Homo sapiens: one gene and its partners. The protein of the gene in region 1 purifies or fractionates together with the protein of each later gene. This does not show direct contact. Each region holds a gene or a part of one and is shown on either strand. Other genes may lie near its edges. The genes, in order: UTP25, AAK1 and MPHOSPH10.

The links.
Region 2: the proteins of UTP25 (region 1) and AAK1 purify together in Homo sapiens (affinity purification with mass spectrometry; 2 studies listed by BioGRID and IntAct, with this or other methods). This does not show direct contact.
Region 3: the proteins of UTP25 (region 1) and MPHOSPH10 purify together in Homo sapiens (affinity purification with mass spectrometry; 2 studies listed by BioGRID and IntAct, with this or other methods). This does not show direct contact.

Annotation. Positions count from the first base shown.
Region 1 is NC_000001.11:209,844,953-209,852,063, forward strand, and holds part of UTP25 (U3 small nucleolar RNA-associated protein 25 homolog), read left to right. Parts: intron 1-6,251; coding exon 6,252-6,495; 3' UTR 6,496-7,111. UniProt on the Homo sapiens protein: Component of the ribosomal small subunit processome for the biogenesis of ribosomes, functions in pre-ribosomal RNA (pre-rRNA) processing. Essential for embryonic development in part through the regulation of p53 pathway.
Region 2 is NC_000002.12:69,458,646-69,465,756, reverse strand, and holds part of AAK1 (AP2-associated protein kinase 1), read left to right. Parts: coding exon of another isoform or gene 1-332; 3' UTR 333-4,045; coding exon of another isoform or gene 4,046-4,090; 3' UTR 4,091-7,111.
Region 3 is NC_000002.12:71,133,580-71,140,690, forward strand, and holds part of MPHOSPH10 (U3 small nucleolar ribonucleoprotein protein MPP10), read left to right. Parts: intron 1-368; coding exon 369-526; intron 527-1,046; coding exon 1,047-1,218; intron 1,219-4,910; coding exon 4,911-5,052; intron 5,053-6,215; coding exon 6,216-6,283; intron 6,284-7,111. UniProt on the Homo sapiens protein: Component of the 60-80S U3 small nucleolar ribonucleoprotein (U3 snoRNP). Required for the early cleavages during pre-18S ribosomal RNA processing. Part of the small subunit (SSU) processome, first precursor of the small eukaryotic ribosomal subunit.

The DNA of each region.
Region 1 (7,111 bases):
ACTCACAATGGGTGCATTTTCTCAGAGAATCCTAAACAGATACGCCAGAAATCTCCCAAGCTTTGGAGCACATTAGATGATGCACTTTGGCATTGCATTACCTTTTAGTTTATGCTAAAACGATTAGGATGGTGCTCCCCAGATAACGTCCTTGTTCCCAGGATGGGGAGGGAGGCGTCCCAGCAGCTTGCCTAGGCATAGCAAAGCTGGCATGGCATGACCTCTTAGAGAGTTGAGGATTGATTAAATTTGTGTTTCCCAGGCTCCATTCTTGGCTACCCAGAGAAGGCTGCTTGGCCAAAGAGTGTTAATGAATGCCTGCTTGTTGCCCTCATTATTTGCTCTGTTCCAGTAAGTTGTCGTTTCCATTCATGTTGGAAAGTATTTGGGGAAGTTGCACTCATCAGGTCTTAAAAGCTCTTAGCTTTCTATCATCTTGACAAATGAAAGCAAGCCCTTTAAGTGAAGTGGATGGATTGGAAAACTTCCCAGTGTGATTGTCTATGGCAACTGTGAATTAAGCTGGGATGGGAATTAAGCTCTTTAATATCTCAGCAGCTTTTCAAGGACAGGGCATGGAGCCCTTTGTAAGCAGGACAGTCTCCTGTATTACACTGTCTATTTACCAAGCCATGTTGCCCTCAAAGTCACGATAAGGACAAATCTCAGCATATGCCATTTGCTTTATGCCCTGGGCCAGGTTAATTGGTGTTTCTTTTGTAGAAGATGAATGAAAATAATGTGCTTTAGAGTTCTGCAACAGCTAATTATCTCAAGGTTTCCAGCTATAGAATTTTTTGCTCGAGAGATCACCAAGGTGATGATGGATGTTTTGGTGTGCAGTGCCTTTGTGATTTTTTTTTTTTTAATTTGACCTTAGAATAAGTACTTTTTTTTTCTTTTTCTTTTTCTTTTTTTTTTTTTAAGACAGTCTCACTTTGTTGCTCAGGCTGGAGTGCAGTGGTGTGATCTCGGCCCGCTGCAGCGTCTGCCTCTTGGGTTCAAGCAATTCTCGTGACTCAGCCTCCTGAGTAGCTGGGATTACAGAATTGCATCACCACGCCTGGCTGATTTTTGTATTTTTAGTAGACGAGGTTTTGCCATGTTGGCCAGGCTGGTCTTGAACTCCTGGCCTCATGTGATCTGCGCACTTCAGCCTCCCAAGAAGTGTTGGGGTTACAGGCATGAGCCACCGTGCCCGGCCAGAAAATGTACATGTATTTTATATTGTAGTATCTGACTCTGTTTTTATATTCTCTATGACAGCTGGCAATGTTAGGAAGATTAGAATTCATTTTTGAGTTAGCAAAAATTTTTTAACCTGAAGATTTGTTTTATGTGGGGAAGATTAAACTAGCAGAATCTTAGAATTGGATGAACATTTGGTCATGATTGCCCTCCCAGTGATGGGTCACAGCTCTTTTCCAGTGCGTTATCAGTGGGTTTCCACAGCAGGGAGGATCTCAACCAGGAGGCAAGTCAGAAACTGGAGGTGGGATTTGTGGAGTTTGGAAAGGCTGCTGGGAATTTCTGATTACTCCCTTCCCCTACAGGAGAATCCCAGTTCTAGAAGTAGTAGACTTGGTCTTTATGGACCGTAGGAAGGAGCCAGTCTTTCAAGTTCATTGTGGTTGCCTCATTTGTCTTTAACAGTGGCTCGTGAAATAGACATGTGGAAGGTACTGTAAGGGTGATTAGGCTGTGTTTGTAGGAGTCACTGAAAACAAAGCATATATAAGGGAGGAGGAAGGCAGGGTAAGGGGTGCTCAAGCTATGGAGACTTGCCACTAACTGCCCCTTGGAAGAGGCCCTGGCCATGTTCTCTGTTGCCAGGAGATACTCAGTCTCTATTGTGGTTGCATTGGGACTGAGACAGATTTTCATGTGTGTGTGTTTAATATAACACTTAACAGTTTTATTGTTTTGTTTTTCCTGATTGTGAGGGTATTTCACAGTTATTGTAGAGATATTGGAAATTTTAGGTTAAAAATCTCACTGCCCTGATATAAATACTCTTTTTGGTAATTTTTTTCCATCTTTTTTATGTGAAAAATGTGTGCACATGCACACGTGCACACACACACGTGTTTTTTTAAAAAACAATACTAAAATTAGGATCTTTTTTTGTTTTAAGGATTTTTTTTTCCTTTGTCTTAGATGTTTTATGTGCTCATTTAAAAAAATTCAAAGACTAACATTTTGGCCTGTATATTTGTATATTGTGGATTTTTGTGTATATTTTTAAGTTACTATATATAGCTCTACGACATCCTCTCTTCCCCCAGGTTTTTATTTGAAAAGATTTCATTGTGAAAGAAAATTGTTAAGAGACTAACAATAAACATCTGTTTATTTATAAATGCTTTTACCCCAAATTCCACCAGCTGTTCTCATTTTATCACATTTGCACATACCCATCTTCTCTCTATCCCCACTCACATCTCTTATTTTTTCTTCCTGAACCATTTGAAAGTAAAGTAGCGTGAGTCTTCATTGACACTTCACCCCTAAATATTTTAGCATGTAGCTCCTAAAAACAAAAACATTCTTTTATCTAACCATAGCACCATTATCATGCTACCTGATGTTACTACAGTAATATCATCTGATATCTAGTCTATATTCAGATTTTGCTAGTTGTCACCAAAATGACCATTATAGCTCTTTCCCCTCCGGCCAAAAAGGATTCAGTAAGGATCATATATAGCATTTGGTTAACTTACTGCTTTTGTTTCTTTAATCTAGTTTAGTTCTCAATTGGGGAACAATTTTGCTCCCTCAGGGACATTTGGCAATATCTGGAGACATTTTTGGTTATCACAACTGGAGGATTATTCTGGTGGTTCCAGTGGGTTGAGACCAGTGATGCTGTGAAACACCTTCGTTCACAGGACAGCCCCCAACCACAAAGAATTATCTGTCTCAAAATGTCAGCAGTGTTAACACTGAGAAACCCTCATCCAGAATAACTCTCTTGCTTTTTTACTTTTTCATGACATCGACATCTTTTTGAAGAGTCCAATCTGGTTTCCTGCAGTATGTCTCACAGTCTGGATTTATCTAATTGTTCCCTTGTTATTTAGATCAGTGGTTCTCAAACTTTGCCGTACGTTAGAATAGAAGCTTTTAAAAATCCAAATGCCCAGGTCACATCCCAGTACCAATTAAATCGCAGTGTCTGGGATGGGGACCAAACCTAAGTATTAATAAAAAAAATAAAAAAACAACCAGCTAGGTGATTTCAATGTGCAGCAGTTTGGGGATGACTGATTTAGAATAAATATCTTTTGATAAGAATTCTACTTAGGGAATATTACGTACTTTCTACCTCATCTCATCAGAAGGCACGTAATGTCACTTTGTCTCATTCTTGGTGATGCCAAATCACTAAAATCACTTAGTGTGTGTATGTAATTAATAAGTAACGTGTGAGGTAAACATCACATTGTTTTTAATGGCTACATAGTATTACATTGGTTAATTAAGCTAGCTTCCTTTTAGTGGGCATATAGGGGTTTTTTTTCTGTTTTCTGCTGTTGTATATAATAATACGCAAAACATCCATATGCATATGTTTTGATGAAATACTTACCTAGTTATTTTCTTGGGATAGATTTTGAAAGGAAAACTCGTTAGCACAGAGGCTGTACACAGTTAAAAATGTGTCATGCGTTGCCACTTATTTGCTCCTTTGCATCTTTTCCATATCTTCTCCTGAATTCATAGACAAAGTAATTTATGCTCCATTCACCTATTTCTCCAAAGCTCCATAGACTGAATTATTGCTACTGATGTGATAGTCAAAATGATACCTCATTGTTTGGATGTCTTTTCTTGCTTTTTTGTGTCTTCTATAACTTTCAATGGAATGTAGAGGCTGAAGTAAATAATACTTATGTCCGGCCGCACCCCTTCCGTAGGCCACTGGTGTGGGTGCTATCAATCTAGTCAGGATTTGATTGTTACTGTAGATACCTTCCCAACACCACAGACCTCAAATTCCTCCAGCAGACAGTGGGCTTGGTGTAGGGTCTCGGGTGCTGGAGGGTTTTTCTCAGTGTCCTGATTGCTCAGCTGTCACTGAGGCCTTGACACGTGTGCCAGAGGAGGGTCTCACTCCACACTCAGACCCCTCCTCACAGGAGGCCTCTTGTTTCTCCTTGCAAGGCATGAAGTCGGGGGGAGGGGGTTCTCCTGGTCCAGCTCAATTTTTGGCAGGCCCTTTTTATTCCAAGCTTTGGGGGTGAGGTTTTCTCAGGGTTCCTGCCCCGCTACCTCCGTGGCAGCCAGACTCCACCTTTTATCTGTGAGGGATCTTTGTGGTGAAGTGTATACAGCTTCTTCCCTAATCGAACTCTGCTTGTATCAGTGCAGGAACTTGGGCTGAACAGGTTTCTTACCCCTTCCTCTGGGGCAGAATGCTTTTTACTGGGTACAAGTCTTGTGTGGGGGACAAATGGAAGGGTGGGGGTTTACTGCCCTTCCCTTAAGGGCAGACAACTTTTGCTTCTACTCACCCTCCCCCTCAAGTGGTTTGCCTTTGCCTGCCTGCGATTAGGGGTGGGGGACAGGGTGGCTCCTTTCTTCTCCCCCGTGTGCTTCACGTTTTTACCATGGGTTTCACGATAATGGGCCTGGGAAGTAGGTGGGCTTTCATGTCCCTACCACCAGTGGGGTCTCCCTCGGGTCTTCTGCTTTCTCCAGGGCTCCCAGTGCAGGCCTCTGGAACAAGCTCATGAGTGGATGTGAACTAAAGGAGCATCCAGGGATCCCTGGGGTCCTGAAGTCAGGCAAGCCTATTCTTGCCCTTTAAGAATGTGTTAGAAGTGTATCTATTTTCTTACTACCCACTTTTTTGGCAGAGGCCATCTTTCTCCTGTGCTCTGCCTAAGGTGCAGTAGTTCCTGTGTCCCGTTTTTCCTCAGAAGGGCTACTCTTTGGAACTCAGTCCATGGTGAGCTGAAGCTGGCTCACACTGGCTCATGAGACCTGGCTGCACATCTCTGGGTCAGCAGCATGACATTGGTAGCTTGAAACTGACAAATCCTTCAAATTAGCACCCTCCCTTTCTCCCACTGAGGACCAATTATTAAACATACACCAGCTCACCACCTAATTCAGGTTACCTGATTGCTTCATGATGGTAGCTCTTTGGGCTCAAGAAAAGGAACATTTTTGTATAATAGATTATCTGACTTTTTCTTATTGGTATAGGAGCAATATTCTCGAGTTTTATACATTCTAAGCAGAAGTAGAACTCAGTGTTGTTTTTGTTTTGAGAACTAGTGAGGTAGAACAGTTTATTCAAGTTCATTAGCCGTTAGAATTCCTTCTTTATGGAAAGGATGTTGAAAGGTGAACCACATAATAGATCACAGTCATGGTTTGGGAAAGGAAGGTCTCCAGAGAGATCAGGATGAGCTGTGAGGGAAAAAGACAAGGAAAACTTACCTTCTGTGAAAGAAATAAAATCCCCAAGGGAGTCTAACGTCTTCAGTGTATGAGAGAAACTTAACAGGAAAAATCAGAAGCTTGTCAACATATAAAATCTTTTGTTATGGAATCCCACAGGGGAACGGTTGACGTCAGCCTGACTGAACCATACTGCAAGTCAGTCCCTTGGGTGTACACCACCCCCCACCACAGGGCGGCACTGTGCAGCTGGGAAAGAGATGGAAATGCATACGCTGTTGAAACTAATTGCTTTCTCATGATGCCTAGTGGGTCCTTGGGCAGGGTTTTGTAAATGGATGAACTTGGGACGTCTGCCATGGAGTTAACATGTATCCAGAGTGGCAAGAAAAGACTAATGGGAGTGTATTTACAATCTGTACAACTTATTTTATGTACTGGGTCTGACCTTGTCTCCATTCTTTTTTGCCTGATTATAATAAGGCTAATGTTCCATTTTAAGTGCCTGCTTTTTAAGTTTTCTGTGACAGATTTTTAAATCCTGGTCTACTATTCTTTCCCATGATACCTCAGCCTACCCAGTGTAGGATCAAGAAATGTGTATTTATTTTATCATTTTCTTAAGCCAAATATTAGGAATTCGAATATGTTGTCATAAAAAGAATTCAAATATGTTGCCACCTCAAGTTAGAATAACTTTTGTTCTGTTACTTGTGCCACTGTTTTTCTCCATTAGCAGGAAGCAACAAGCATGAACTATGCCTCTGTACAACTCCTAGGTAGTTTTTCTAGAACTTGTTTCTCAAGTTGACATAGCTCTTTCTTTCCAATTCTGACAGGTATACAATAAAAGGCATCAGGAACCTGATTTTCTATGAACTGCCGACATATCCACACTTTTACAGTGAAATCTGTAATATGCTGAGAGCCACCAACAGAGGAGAAGAGGCCACGTGGACCTGCACTGTTCTCTACTCCAAATATGATGCCCAGAGGTTAGCTGCCGTGGTTGGTGTGGAGCGGGCGGCACAGATGCTACAGTCCAACAAGAATGTCCACCTCTTCATTACTGGAGAAAAATGAAATTTTGTTGGGCAGGAAGTGGTATTTGGCATGATACATAATGTTTGATTCTATGCCATTTGGACCCAATTCTGATTACTTACAGAAGAAGGACTGATACAAAGAAAGTGCATGAGGCAATGTCAGTATTATCTGACATCTTTCTTTTCAGGTCATGTGTCCCTGAAAAGTTAAATGTAAACCAGATTTTGGTAAATCCCATCTTTCAGAAGTGAAGAGGGGGCTAGAAGGACTCTGAGAAGTTGGTAGAAGAAAACTCCCACTTGTGAATATTTTTGTGAGACATAAATTCTTTTATTACGATTTACCTCTAATTTATTACACTTAGTAAATTCTTCCAGATTTTTCTATTTGTTTGACACTTCCTTAAAGTAAGGAATACACATTGCTTGCGAGAACTGGTTATGAGACATTGGAATACTTCTTGCTGCTACATGTCATCTTAATTTTGGATGGCATGGGTTTTGTAAAACTTATTCTGCCCCAGCCAAACTTTTTTGAAACCTTAAATAGTCTACCTTAATTCAGCCTAGAAGAGTACATTGATTTACTGATCTTTTTTCATATTCATAATACTAAATGTTTTAGTTTTGTTCAAATATATGCTTAAAATCAC
Region 2 (7,111 bases), on another chromosome or scaffold:
CTCCCAGGGGATCCTGCCTGGAATCTGGGGGTCATTCTAATGACAGAAACAAAGGACCTCAGCTCCAGAAAGAAGCTGTCTCAGGCCCCATGGCTGGCAAACCATTCCGCCCCCAGTCCTTATCCAAGTATTCCCGTCACTATAGCCCAGAAGACGAGCCAAGTCCAGAAGCCCAGCCCATTGCTGCCTACAAAATTGTTTCACAAACCAACAAGCAGTCGATAGCTGGGTCTGTTTCTATCACATCCCTTTCCTCCAGGACTACGGAGCTGCCAGCTGCTGATCCATTTGCTCTAGCACCCTTCCCTTCAAAATCAGGCAAGAAACCCTAGGAGCAAAACCTGAGCCTCAAGCCTCTTGTCTCTATCCCACCCTCAATACCCGCCATGGCACTCCCAGCTTAGCCTTCTGAAGAAGAAATATTATCAGTTCTTATATTTCAATTCCCTGCGTCAGAGCAGAATTTCTTGAGTCAACAAACTCAGTTGCAGTGATATTTAGTTGAAGCCCCTTTAAGTTATGTTCATTTTTGTTTGTTTGTTTGTTTGTTTATATTGATTTCTGGACTTGGAGGCATTTTCATCTCCTTCACAGAGGTCATCCACTTCCACCAAGAACTCTGCTTTCCCCCCGCCCCACCCACAGAAACTGTTTAAATCCTGAAATACTTCTTCACCCCAATCCCAAAGGGGCCCTATTGTTGCTAGTTTTAATTCCTGTAGCTCCTGTTCTAAGTCATGCCCATCGAAGAATCAAGATTAGTCCCTCCACTAAATCAAGATTTAGTACTCTTGAAAAGGGGAGATGTCTGGAAAGAAGAGCAAGATAAAAACCCTGCACATCAACAGGAAGTATAATCCTGCAGTTACTAATAATTCCTGTAGAAGCAGCAGCTCTAGGAGTCTCCAGATCTGATTCTCAGTCTGTGTGCAAGCCAGGCTGGCTCTCGTGCATGACTGTCTATGGGTGTGGAATGTACGTCAGAGCCTGTGTAGAGATACAGGCAGATGGGCTAACTCCTCATGTCTAGTCATGCTGGCAGGGCTTTCCCCACATCCATGCTTTTGAAATTAGTGTGAGTGTACAGGTTTGTGTGTGCATGTATACGTGTGTGTGCACAGGAAGCATTTCCACTTGAGGGAAATCCTGCCCCATCATGCCTACCTCCACAATGAAATCACTCGTTTTTTGGTGTTTGCTCGCCTAACTGACTTGAACCCCATTTTATTTATTTAGTTTTTTTCTCATGGCAAAGTAGAATACGTTGGAAGGTGTAGGGAAATCCTGCTGGAACTGGTGTTTCAGAGTAAATCTTTTTTCTCTCCGGAATTTCTTGTTTTGCTATTAACAAATTATATTTACCTGATTATGAAAAATTAATTTTCCTTATACATTTTCCCCTTACAACACTAGAAAAGAGCACCTTGTTACAGTTCCGGCCTCTCAGTATGTGGGCTAAATGCCAGCATTAGGGAATTCATTAATCATGAGACTAGGCTACAAACTAGGCTTGCTTGTTTTGGGGTGGTTTTGTTGTTGTTGTTGTTGTTGTTGTTGTTGTTTCCAAATCTCTACTGCCTTTTGAGGAAATGTAAATCTGAGACATGGAAATAAGTGTTTGGGAGAATGGAAAAGAGCTGAATCAGGTAGGCATGAAAACTTTTACATTCTCTATCCTCTTTAGATGTTGAAATAGGCCAGACAGGTTAACTGATGTTTTTTAAAATTGTCTTTTATTTCTGGAAAGATCTGACTTATTCCTAGCTTTTTTCATACCCTTTATTATTAGTGCCTTAAAATAAAGCTGGCCAGGTGCAGTGCCACACACCTGTAATACCAGCATTTTGGAAGGCTGAGGCAGGAGGATCAGTTGAGCCCAGGAAGTTCAAGACCAACTCTGGCAACACAGCGAGACCCTGTCCCTTCAAAAAATAAATAAAAAAATAGGCTGGGCATGGTGGCTCACACCTGTAATCCCAGCACTTTGGGAGGCCAAGGTGGGCAGATCACAAGGTCAGGAGTTTGAGACCAGCCTGGCCAACATGGTGAAACCCCATCTCTACTAAAAATACAAAAAATTAGCTGGACGTGGTGGTGCACACCTGTAGTCCCAGCTACTCAGGAGGCTGAGGCAGGAGAATCGCTTGAACCCGGGAGGCAGAGGTTGCAGTGAGCAGAGATTGCGCCACTGCACTCTGGCCTGGGCGACAGAGCGAGTCTAAAAAATAAAATTAAATAAAATAATGAAAAAAATTAGCTGGGTATGGTGACATATGCCTGTAGCTACTCAGGAGGCTGAGCTGGAAGGATCACTTGAGCCCAGGAGTTTGAGGCTGCAGTGAGTTGTGAGTCCAGCCTGGGTGACAGAGTGAGACACTGTCTCCAAAAATATAATAATAAAAATAAAGCCTGTATCTCAATGGGAAGATTTCTGCTAAGGCAGTTCAACTCACTGGAAAGAACTGCTGCATTAGGTTTCAACTTTAATGCTTTCTGTTACTTCTAGTAAAGGTTAAGTGATTTTTCCATTAGCTGTAGAAGTTTGGAGAGCTATTTACCAAGCCAGATCAATGATTTAAAAATTATTGGAAATTCATCTAAGAATCAAGTCTGAATGCCCAATTCTATTGCGGTTGATTAGGTGTGATATTCTTTAAAGTTCAGGAATATTGGCAGTAAAAAATGAGCAGCTACTTTTCAATACTTTGTCCTTTTTTGGTGGTCTCTGCCTATTTCAAATGTCCTGATCAAAAGATAAATAATTGGCACTGTGCCAAGGTTTGGTTTTCCAACTAAGGTTTCAACTGTGCCAGAAACCTATGTCCTTCACTTTGGTGGATGCTAAATGTTATTCTAAGAATATGCTTTTTCCCAATTCTCCTTTCTGATTTTTATGTATTAGTGGATGCAAAATTGTCTTTCTAGTTGAATGAATAATTTCGGCTAATGCACGTGGAACTTTGCACCCCAGATTCTTCCCATGGTCATTATCAAGTGAAGCCCTCAAAAACATGAGCGAAGAGCCTAGAAATACTCAGGGAGATTTCTCACCCCAACTCAGAAATTTTTTTTTTTTTTTTCAAGACGGCGTCTTGCTCTGTCGCTCAGGCGGGAGTGCAGTGGTGTGATCTCGGCTCACTGCAACCTCCATTTTCCGAGTTCAAGCGATTCTGCCTCAGCCTCCCGAGTAGCTGGGATTATAGGCACACACCACCGCGCCTGGCTAATTTTTGTATTCTTAGTAGAGATGGGGTTTCACCATGTTGGCCAGGTTGGTCTTGAACTCTTGACCTTGTGATCCACCCACCTTGGCTTCCCAAAGTGCTAGGATTACAGGCGTGAGCCACCGCACCTGGCCCAGAAATTCTTTTTTTTTTTTTAAATTATTATTATACTTTAAGTTTTAGGGTACATGTGCACAATGTGCAGGTTAGTTACATATGTATACATGTGCCATGCTCGTGTGCTGCACCCACTAACTCGTCATTTAGCATTAGGTATATCTCCTAATGCTATCCCGCCCCCCTCCCCCCACCCCACAACAGTCCCCAGAGTGTGATGTTCCCCTTACTGTGTCCATGTGTTCTCTTTGTTCAATTCCCACCTATGAGTGAGAACATGCGGTGTTTGGTTCAGAAATTCTTAAAGTAAGAGATCATTCTAATTCCCCTTTCCAAATATTCAGGATTATCTCTGTAACAGCCCAGCAAAATGTTTTTCCTTTGGTTATTTGATAATTCCCTTCTAATCAAGTGACTATTTTAATTCTCAAGGTGCAAATCAGGATAAAATCATGGTGATTTTACTACATAGTTGAATACTTCGTCAAGTATGAGCTTGTATCCTTTTTAAATTTTTCACTGGAGGCCAGGCGCGGTGGCTCACGCTTGTAATCCCAGCACTTTGGGAGGCCGAGGTGGGTGGATCACTTGAGGGTAGGAGTTTGAGACCAGCCTGGCCAACATGGTGAAACCCTGTCTCTACCAAAAATACAAAAAGTAGCTGGGCGTGATGGCACGCACCTGTAGTCCCAGTTACTAGGGAGGCTGAGGCAGAATTGCTTGACCCAGGGAGGCAGACTTTGCAGTGAGCCAAGATTGTGTCATTGCACTCCAGCCTGGGCGAGAAGAGCAAAACTCCGCCTCAAAAAAAAAAAAAAAATTGTCACTGGAGACATGATGGGTGGAGACTCTACATACCTTCTTTGAATACAGAAACGGATGCAAACACATGCAAATTACTTTTTTTTTTTTTTTTGGTGATGCATGAAAAAACTTTGACTTGTGGATTACATTAATTATTAGTAACAGTTAGATTCTGCCGACTTGTATTACAGTAGGGTCTTATTTCCTTAAAGAGAAAAAAAAATACAGTCATGCCCCACTTAATGATGAGGGAGACATTCAGAGAAATGCATCCTTAGGTGATTTTGTCATTGTGTGAACATCACAGAGTGTACTTAACACAAACCTAGATGGCACGGCCTACTACCTACCTAGGCTATATGGTCCAGCCTGTTGCTCCTGGGCTACAAACCTGTACAGCATGTTACTGTACTGAATACTGTAGGCAGTTGTAACACAATGGTAAGTATTTCTGTATCCAAACATTTTAGACATAGAAAAGGTACAGTAAAAATATGGTATAATCTTATGGGACCATCATGGTATATGTGGTCCATCATTGATGGAATCGTTTTTATGCAGCACATGACTGTATATAATCAACAAACAACTCTACTTTCTTGTTTTCGTTTGTTGTGTTTTTGCTTTACACATTTGATAGGGAACATAGAAGTTGTGACCTTTCATTTCAGTGGAAAGCATTGAGCCAGAATATATTTATTCCTAAACCATCGAGCCACACATGCATTGATGAACCCTGAAAGAATCCACAGTAATTGACTAACAGGCAGTACTGAATGAAAGATGTCATATGTGGTGAAAAATATTTAATATATCAGTTTCTTGGGCTCACATACAGCCCTTTAGTTCCAAGTGCTTGGTTAGATTAGAAAATGGGATGAACACAATTTGATGCTGAAGCAGCTGCTGAGCAGCACCCAGGGAGTCTAGGTCATACGCCCTATATTGTTTTCGGCCCACTTATTGTTGAGTTGAAAAGTCTCATATTTGTAGACTAGAGTGTATGTGTTTAGAGGCTCATGTTGTATCTGAGTTTTCTCTGGCAACTAAGATCTCTTTCTAAACGTTCTAGAAAGATACTGGTATCTTACTGGCCCATTATTTAGTAAGTTTTAGAATACATGTACATCAGTGTTTTCAACTGCTTGGTGGACATTTCACTGATGCATAATCAAAGTAGCAGATTATAATCATCAGAGTGATCTGACAAGGAAATTCTGTATTTGCTTCCATAAAGAAAAATAATCAAAACATATATCAGATATAATATATATGCAGTATATCACATAGGAAATTTTATTGTAGGAAATTAGAGAAGGATGCTACTCAATTCATTCTCTAGCAGGAAGAATACAGCTTAAAAATCACTTGGGTCCCTTTAATAAAGAAAAGTGTGATTCTGTGTTGTGTGTTTGGAACTGAAATTGGAGAACACGTGCCAGTCGACTGTGAAATGGTTGCTGGATAAAACCACAGATGTGGTTTTATCCGAGAAATGTGGGACTGAAATTATTTTGATGAGAGGTACATAAGAGAGCTGCAGAAAAGACTGTAGCTTCTGAGGAGGCAGGAGTACCTTGTTAATATCCAAACCACCCCTGAGTTCTAATGTTCCAACTCCACCTAAACGAGGAATTGGAAACTTTAAATGGAATTATCTAATTTAAATTCTTAGTTTTTTCTTTGTCTTTCTCAGCTGATACTTGTAGTTTTGTTTTGTTTTTTAACCACCAAGAACACTTGCAAGTTTGTTACTGAAAACATCACTAAAGGAAAAGAAGAGTTTCAAAATGCTTGAAAAGTAGTATGTGGTTGGGAATTGTTTTTGTTCAAGTCCCTGGAAGTCCTCTTGGCTTAGCTCCCTTGTTCCTGTTCCCACTTCATTTCCTTACTTAACATTCCCCTATTTTGAGCATGTCAATAAGTGCATGATGAATGGCACAGTTGAATGATCATGTTAACTTTAATTGCTTCCTTTGTTGCTGTAAACAGTTTCTTGTTAAGTTTCAGCCAAGTCTGTGACAATCTCACCAAATAAGAATGAAATGGGCGGGGTGTGGTGGCTCACACTTGGAATCCCAGCACTCTGGGAGGCTGTGTTGGGCCGATCGCTTGAGCTCATGAGTTCAAGACCAACCTGGGCAACATGGCAAAACCTTGTCTCTACAAAAAATACAAAAATTAGCCAGGCATGGTGGTGCACACCTGTAGTCCCAGCTACTTGGGAGGCTTAGGTGGGAGGATGGCTTGAGCACGGGAGGCAGAGGTTGCACTAAGCCAAGATCGTGTCACTGCACTCCAGCCCAGGCAATAGAGCCAGACCCTGTCTCAAAAAAACAAAACAAACAAAACATGAATGAATGAAATGGCTCACCTTCCCTATTATGAACTAGAAGAAAGGATGAAGGAAGGTTGGCAGGACCCCAGCCTTACTCTGTAGTGACAACCCAGAGGTACTTTTCCCGGAATGCAGGGTCAAGTTTATGTGTGAAGGGACTCTAGAATAGCTGGTAAAAATGGCTACATGGTAACCATTCTTGACTTAGTCCAGTATTCCCATAATTTGTAATTCCATAAATTTATTCTCAGCTGTCCCCCAGCCATTTCTAATAGAAGGATGTGTACCCCAGTTTTGACAATGTTCTTGAAATCAAGTTAGTGTTACCTGCATTGCATTATAATGGAACTATATGTACATGTTAAAGGGATCCGTTTGATTCCTTTCGGCAAGGAATTGCAAAAATAGTTTTTACCAATACCAGTTAAAATAGGATAGGTTAGACTTTGGGGGCAGGGTGAGACAGTGCAGCCTTTTCACTCTGAAATGGCAAATCAGCTGTACTCTTTGAGTCTACCAGAGATTCCTATTTGAGTGTGAATGGGGTGTGTGTGTGTGTGTGTGTGCTCATTCATCTTCATGCTTTCTTCCATGGTGTTAATTCAAGCTCTCCTAATAAAGGTATCCA
Region 3 (7,111 bases), on another chromosome or scaffold:
AAGTTTTGAGAGAAGAGAGAGCACTTTCCTCCTCAAATTAGCTTTTCTTCTGTTTTTCTAGGAGAGATTTAATTGTAGTTAGAAGATTTAGTGATAAGAAATATTGTGCTCTATCTTATCAGTTATAAATGAATCTGTACTTCCATTCAATTTATGTTCCAGTTGGTCTTATAATTTTGTGGTAGTGTTATTAGTTGCCATTTTCACCTAATAATTATTTAGTTATTAGTTTGGTTATTAGTTATTAGCTTGTAGTGTTATTAAGTCAGAAAGTAATATATACATACAATATACATGCAAATCTATATGCATGTGTTAATATATTTTTCTATCCCTAATTAATAGTTTTTAATATCTTTTTATTTTAGTCAGGTAAAAGTTCCAGAAATCTGAAATACAAAGATTTTTTTGATCCAGTTGAAAGTGATGAAGACATAACAAATGTTCATGATGATGAGCTGGATTCAAACAAAGAAGATGATGAAATTGCTGAAGAAGAAGCAGAAGAACTAAGTATTTCGGAAACGTGAGTATTTTGAACCATCCTTTACATTGTAAGCTGGAATTGCCCAATCATGTGTGTGTACTCGTAGTTATCAAATGTGTTTGTCTTAGCAAGTTCTATTCTCTAATATCAGATATTCTCAAGATAGCCAGAGGAAAGTCTCTGACTGTAAAGGGACATTAGAGATCACTTAATGAAGAAAAATATCTCTGGTAGTAGCAATCAAACCTTCCTTACCAGGAACTTTGATTTGGTTTTGTGTCAATAAAATCCTGTTATTTTTGTGAGATAAGAGATTTGTATTATAGATTGATGAATAATTTATTTTCTATATGTTGGACACTTTTTTTTCTGTTTCTTACATAGCGTTTTACCTAAATAATACCTTTTGTTCCTTAATAACTGAATGATTTTGGAAGTTCTGAGTATTTGGTTGCATTAGGTATATAAAATAAGAACTTTATTAAGGGAAAATTTGTTTCCTTTTGTTTTTCTAATGGAAAGTAGTATATTTCTTTTTATAAGAGTTTTGGTATTGTAGGGATGAAGATGATGACCTTCAAGAAAATGAAGACAATAAACAACATAAAGAAAGCTTGAAAAGAGTGACCTTTGCTTTACCAGATGATGCGGAAACTGAAGATACAGGTGTTTTAAATGTAAAGAAAAATTCTGATGAAGTTAAATCCTCCTTTGAAAAAAGACAGGAAAAGGTAATTAGTAATTTAAGGAATTTTTAATATACTTGATATTAACCATCCTTTGAAAACTATTAACCATCCTTTGAAAACAAATATCTTGGCCAGGTGCAGTGGCTCACGCCTGTAATCCTAACACTTTGGTAGTCCAAAGCAAGAGGATCGCTTGAGCTCAGGAGTTCAGAACCAGCCTAGGCAACATAGTGAGACCTTGTCTCTACCAAAAATACAAAAATTAGCTGGGCATGGTGATGTGTGCCTGTAGTCCAGCTACTCTGGTGTCTGAGGTGGGAGGATCACTTGAGCCTAGGAGGTTGATGCTGCGGTGAGCTAAGATTGCATCACTGCTCTCTAGCCTGGGCGGCAAGCAAGACCTTGTCTTAAAACAAAAAACCAAAAATCTTGCCATATGGAAAGCATCTGATTTGCAAAATCAGTGCCTGCATTTCAGTTTGGGGCCTGTGAGTAAAATAGTTGCTTCTGCTGGGCGTGGTGGCTCATGCCTGTAATCCCAGCACTTTTCGGGGCTGAGGCAGGTGGATCACTTCAGGTCAGGAGTTCGAGACCAGCCTGGCTAACATGGTAAAACCCCATCTCTACTAAAAAAAAAAAAAAGTAGCCAGGTGTGGTGGCGGGCACCTGTAATCCCAGCTAATCGGGAGGCTGAGGCAGGAGAATCCCTTGAACCCAGGAGGCGGAGGTTGCAGTGAGCCGAGATGGTGTCACTGGACTCCAGCCTGGGCGACAGAGTGTGACTCTGTCTCAAAAATAAAAAAATTTTTAAAGATAATTGTTTTTTTCTCTGTCCCTAATATCTTTATATGTATAGCATGTCTCTCCTGATAAAGCTGTCCTGTGAGCATCTTAACTGTTTCCACTGTTTTGGAGGATACCACATATGTCTTTTCTTTTTCTTTTTCTTTTTTTTTTTTTTTTTGAGACAGAGTTTCACTCTTGTCACCCAGGCTGGAGTGCAGTGGCGTGATCTTAGCTCACTGCAACCTCCACCTCCCAGGTTCAATCAATTTTCCTGCCTCAGCCTCCTGAGTAGTTGGGATTACAGATGCCCGCCACCACGCCCAACTAATTTTTTTGTATTTTTAGTAGAGACGGGGTTTCACCATGTTGGCCAGGCTGGTCTGAAGCTCCTGACCTCAGGTGATCCACCCACCTTGGCCTCCCAAAGTGCTGGGATTACAGGCGTGAGCCACTGCGCCCAGCGGATACCACCTATGTCTTTAAGGTGCTCCACAGATTTTTGTGAGTGCCAAATAGCCAGAATTTTAATTTATACCATCACAAACATATCTTTCAAAGTTGGTAAAAATTGTTTCTTTGTGTCATGATTTCAGACAAGTGAAATTTCATTAAATTTTTGTAGATGTAGTCTGGCTCTAATAATTTGGCTCTATCATTTATTTACCTTAAAATTTTTATCACAATAAAAATGAGAATAGGGCCAGGCACAGTGGCTCACACCTGCACTTTGGGAGGCTGAGGAGGGAGGATTGTTTGGAGCCCAGGAATTCGAGACCAACCTGGGCAACAGGGCAAAAGCCCGTCTCCACTAAAGATTAAAAAAGTTAGCTGGGAATGGTAGTGTGTGCCTATAGTCTTTGCTACTCGAGAGGCTGATGGGGGAGGATCTCTTGAGTCCAGGAGTTCAAGGCTGCAGTGAGCTATGATTGCACCACAGCACTCTAGCCTGGGCAACAGAGCTAGAGACTGTCTGAAAAAATTAAAAAAAAAAAGAGAACAGGCAGAGAATGAAAGATACCAAGAATATCAAAAGAATTGTTTTTAAAATCTAAGAATCTGAATTAAATCCATGGTTGTCAGATTGTCCCCAGAAGATAGAGAAATTCTAAGGGAAAAAAAGCACCATTATAAAATATCAATGAGTTAGTATCCTTCCACCCCACTCCTCCCGCCCTTCCCCAACAAATAAAGAAAGAAAGGTTTGGTTTTATTGTGAAATTATATCAGACCTTCAAGTTAAGTTTCAATAAATCAAAAATAATTTATTTCAATTTCCACATATAAAGAATAAAGTAGAACTTTCAACCTTTTTTTTTTTTTTTTTGAAACTGTTAGGTCATGAAAACCCAAACCTGACAGAGGTAGCATTAAAACACACACACACACACACACACACACACACACACACACACACACACAGAGCACAGTCTCATTCATGAACAGTGATGCAAAAATCCTACAGCACAGTGGAAAAATGATGCCACACAACTGCATGAACCTTATTCTCTTGAATCAGTATTAGAAAATCTAGTATGATTCCTGACTGCAAGACATTAAGGAGAAAAAACATATAGTCACCTCCATATATGTCAGAAAGACATTTGATAAAATTCAATATTCATTTCTAATTTTTTTTTTCACTCCTAGCGGAATATAAATACATTTAAGCCAAAAACTGCCATCATGCATGATGCATGCATCATTCTAGAAACATCCCTTTAAGATCAGGAATAAGACAAGATGTCCAGTATTACAATTACCACTGTTGATTAACATTCTTTTAGACGCATAGGCCAGTGTAACTACAAAAGATAAAGATAAGAGATGAGGAAAACTGCCAGGTGCGGTGGCTCATGCCTGTAATCCCAACACTTTGGGAGACCAAGGCAGGAGGATTGCTTGAGCTCAGGAGTTCGAGACCAGCCTGGGCAACATGGTAAGACCTCGTCTCTACAAAAAATACAAAAATTAGTCAGGCGTGGTTGCACGCGCCTGTGGTCCCAGTTATTTGGGAGTCCAAGGTAAGAGGATTGCTTGAGCCTAGGAGGTGGAGGTTGCAGTGAGCTGAGATCACGCAACTGCTCTCCAGCCTAGGCAACTGAGCGAGACTGTCTCAAAAAAAAAAAAAAAAAAAAAAGATTAGGAATACTGCAGATGTATTTATATTCCACTAAGAGTGAAAAATGAAAGTGTTGGTATTTGGAGAGGAAACCGAATGGATAAACTGAATTGATATTAGGAAAATAAGAGAATTCTGTAAGGTAGCTGAAAAGGCTGGCATTTTATACACTGAAGTCATCATTGTTGTCTTTTAAAAGTTAGAGATAATGGCCAGGCATGGTGGCTCACGCCTGTAATCCCAGCACTTGGTGAAACCCCGTCTCTACTAAAAAATACAAAAATTAGCCGGGCGTGGTGGCACACGCCTGTAATTCCAGCTACTCGGGAGGCTGAGGCAGGAGAATTGCTCAGGAGACGGAGGTTGCAGTGAGCTGAGATCACACCACTGCACTCCAGCCTAGGCGACAGAGCGAGACTCTGCTTCAAAAAAATTTTAAAAAAAGAAGTTAGAGTAAGAATTTGAGTTTGGAGTCAAAAGGGTCAGACTCCATCAGATACTAATATTCTAATCAAAGAATTACTTGACTTGCGAATAGATAGATCACTTGAATAGAATAGAGCCCAGAAACAAACTCAAAAGCTTCTGGGGGCGTTTAGTATATTATAAACATGGCATTTTAAATTAATCAGGAAAAGAAATTGTTTGCAGCTCACCCCACCATAGGCAGCAGAAATAGGAAGTCATCGACAGAATAAAAAGATGGCAAGAACAGAATCGTAGAACAGTACGTTTCTTGCTTTCCCACTTTTTAAATTATTTTTTGCTTTTACACAAATATAAGATTTTATTTTCTAAATGTATACTAGTTATTTTATCTCTTTCTTAGATGAATGAAAAAATTGCATCTTTAGAAAAAGAGTTGTTAGAAAAAAAGCCGTGGCAGCTTCAGGGGGAAGTGACAGCACAGAAGAGGCCAGAGAACAGCCTCCTGGAGGAGACCCTACACTTTGACCATGCTGTCCGGATGGGTATGGTGCCCTCTTCTGTAGTTTTCATGTCTGTGCTTTTTCCATGGTTCCATTTCATACAAAGATTTGGGGTGGTGTTTCTTTTCCCTCAACTTTTTATTTTAAAAACTTGTAAACACATGGCTTGGCATGGTAGCTCACACCTGTAATCCCGGCACTTTGGGAGGCCGAGGCAGACGGATCACCTGAGGTCAGGAGTTTGAGACCAGCCTGGCCAACATGGTGAAACCCCGTCTCTACTAAAAATACAAAAATCAGCCAGATACGGTGGCAGATTTCAGAATCCCATCTACTCGGAAGGCTGAGGCAGGAGAATTGCTTGAACCCAGAAAGGGGAGGTTGCAGTGAGCCAAGGTTGTGCCAGTGTGCTCCAGCGTGGGCAGCCTGGGCAACAGAGCGACACTCTGTCAAAAAAGAAAAAATCAACTTATAAACACAGAAGAGTTGAAAAAATACTACAGTGAACACCTATATGCTATTCAATTGGATTCACCAGTTACCATTTTGTTATATTTGCTTTCTCTCCCTAGCATATGTAAGATTGTATATGTGCCCTTTTTTTAAGTAAGTTGCCAATCTCATGGCACTTCACTTTTAAGTACTTTTGCAGATATCGTCTAAGAACTAGGACATTCTCCTATGTAATCACAGTACCATTAATCCACCCAAAAAATTTAACAATACGCTAATGATACCTAATGTATAGTTTGTAATCAGCTTTCTTGTAGTAATCTGTTTTGAAGGCTTGCATCCTGTCATGGTCCACTGATTAAATTTTGAACTTCAACCTGAAACTGTGGTCATCTCATTGACTTCTTTCTTGTACCCATTACATCAAAATGAGTTTTCATTTTATTTCAATGGAAGAGAGAATGGAAAAGAGGGGAAGAGTCCCTGGGTACCTTGGGTAAAGTATTAGCACTTACTACCATATGTATCCTAGTTTTGTGGTTTTCAAACTTCAGGGAGCATCACAAGGCTTGTTAAAGCACAGATAGCTGTCCCTCTTCCCCACTTTCTGATTCAGGAAGTATGGGGGTGGCCCAGGAATTTGCATTTCTAACAAGTTCCCACGTGTTGCTGATGCTGTGGGTCCAAGGACTGCACTGAATCAATGGTCTAGTGGATATCTACCTAATGAATAAACGTTGTATATCCTTTAGCACCTGTGATTACAGAGGAAACCACCCTTCAACTGGAAGATATCATTAAACAGAGGATAAGAGATCAGGTCAGTAAGAATTAAATTTAACTTAATCAAAATGTCACCAAGATTTTTAGAAATAATGTGAGAGTACTTTGAGAGTAGGACTATTGCTTTTTATTTTCACTTAGTGTTCACAAACCTTAAATCTAGGCTACCTAGTCAGCTTTTGTTGTGTGAGGTACTGCTCTTCAGTAGTATCCAGGAAAGACGAGTATTGTGCCTGAGAGGAGCAAGAAGCCATTATCCTTTCTCGTGAGTCTTGCTGACCTTTTGGGCGGTGCTCAGTGAAGCTGGTGGCTGACCTGTGATGGTTGCACCCAGAACCCTTGGCTTAGGCACAGTATCTGGTGTGGTAAATTATTCAGTATATATGTCCTAGTCTTTTTTCTGTTACTTATAACAGAATATCTGAAGCTGGGTGACTTAAAAGGAATACAGTTATGGAGGCTGAGAAGTCCAAGGTCGAGGGGCCTTCTTACCAGTGGGGATTCCGCAGAGTCCCAAGGTGGTGCAGGGCATCACATGGTGAAAGGGCTGAGCATGCTAAGATGCTGGCTCAGGTGTCTCTTGCTCTTCTTAAGAGCCACCATTCCCCCACTGATGATAACCCATTAATCCATAAATGCAACTGCCATTCATGAGGGCAAAACCCTGGTGATCCAGTCACGTCCTAGAAGGCCCCACATCTGAGTGTTGCCACATCAGGGATTAAGTTTCCACATGAGTTTTGGAGGGGACATTCAAACCCTAGCATTGTGGTAGTTCTACAATTTTAAAACCATTTCTCAATGGTGTATTTTTTTCAAATGTTAAAAACCTAGTGGTTTTTGTTGAAGAATTGATCTGATTTTG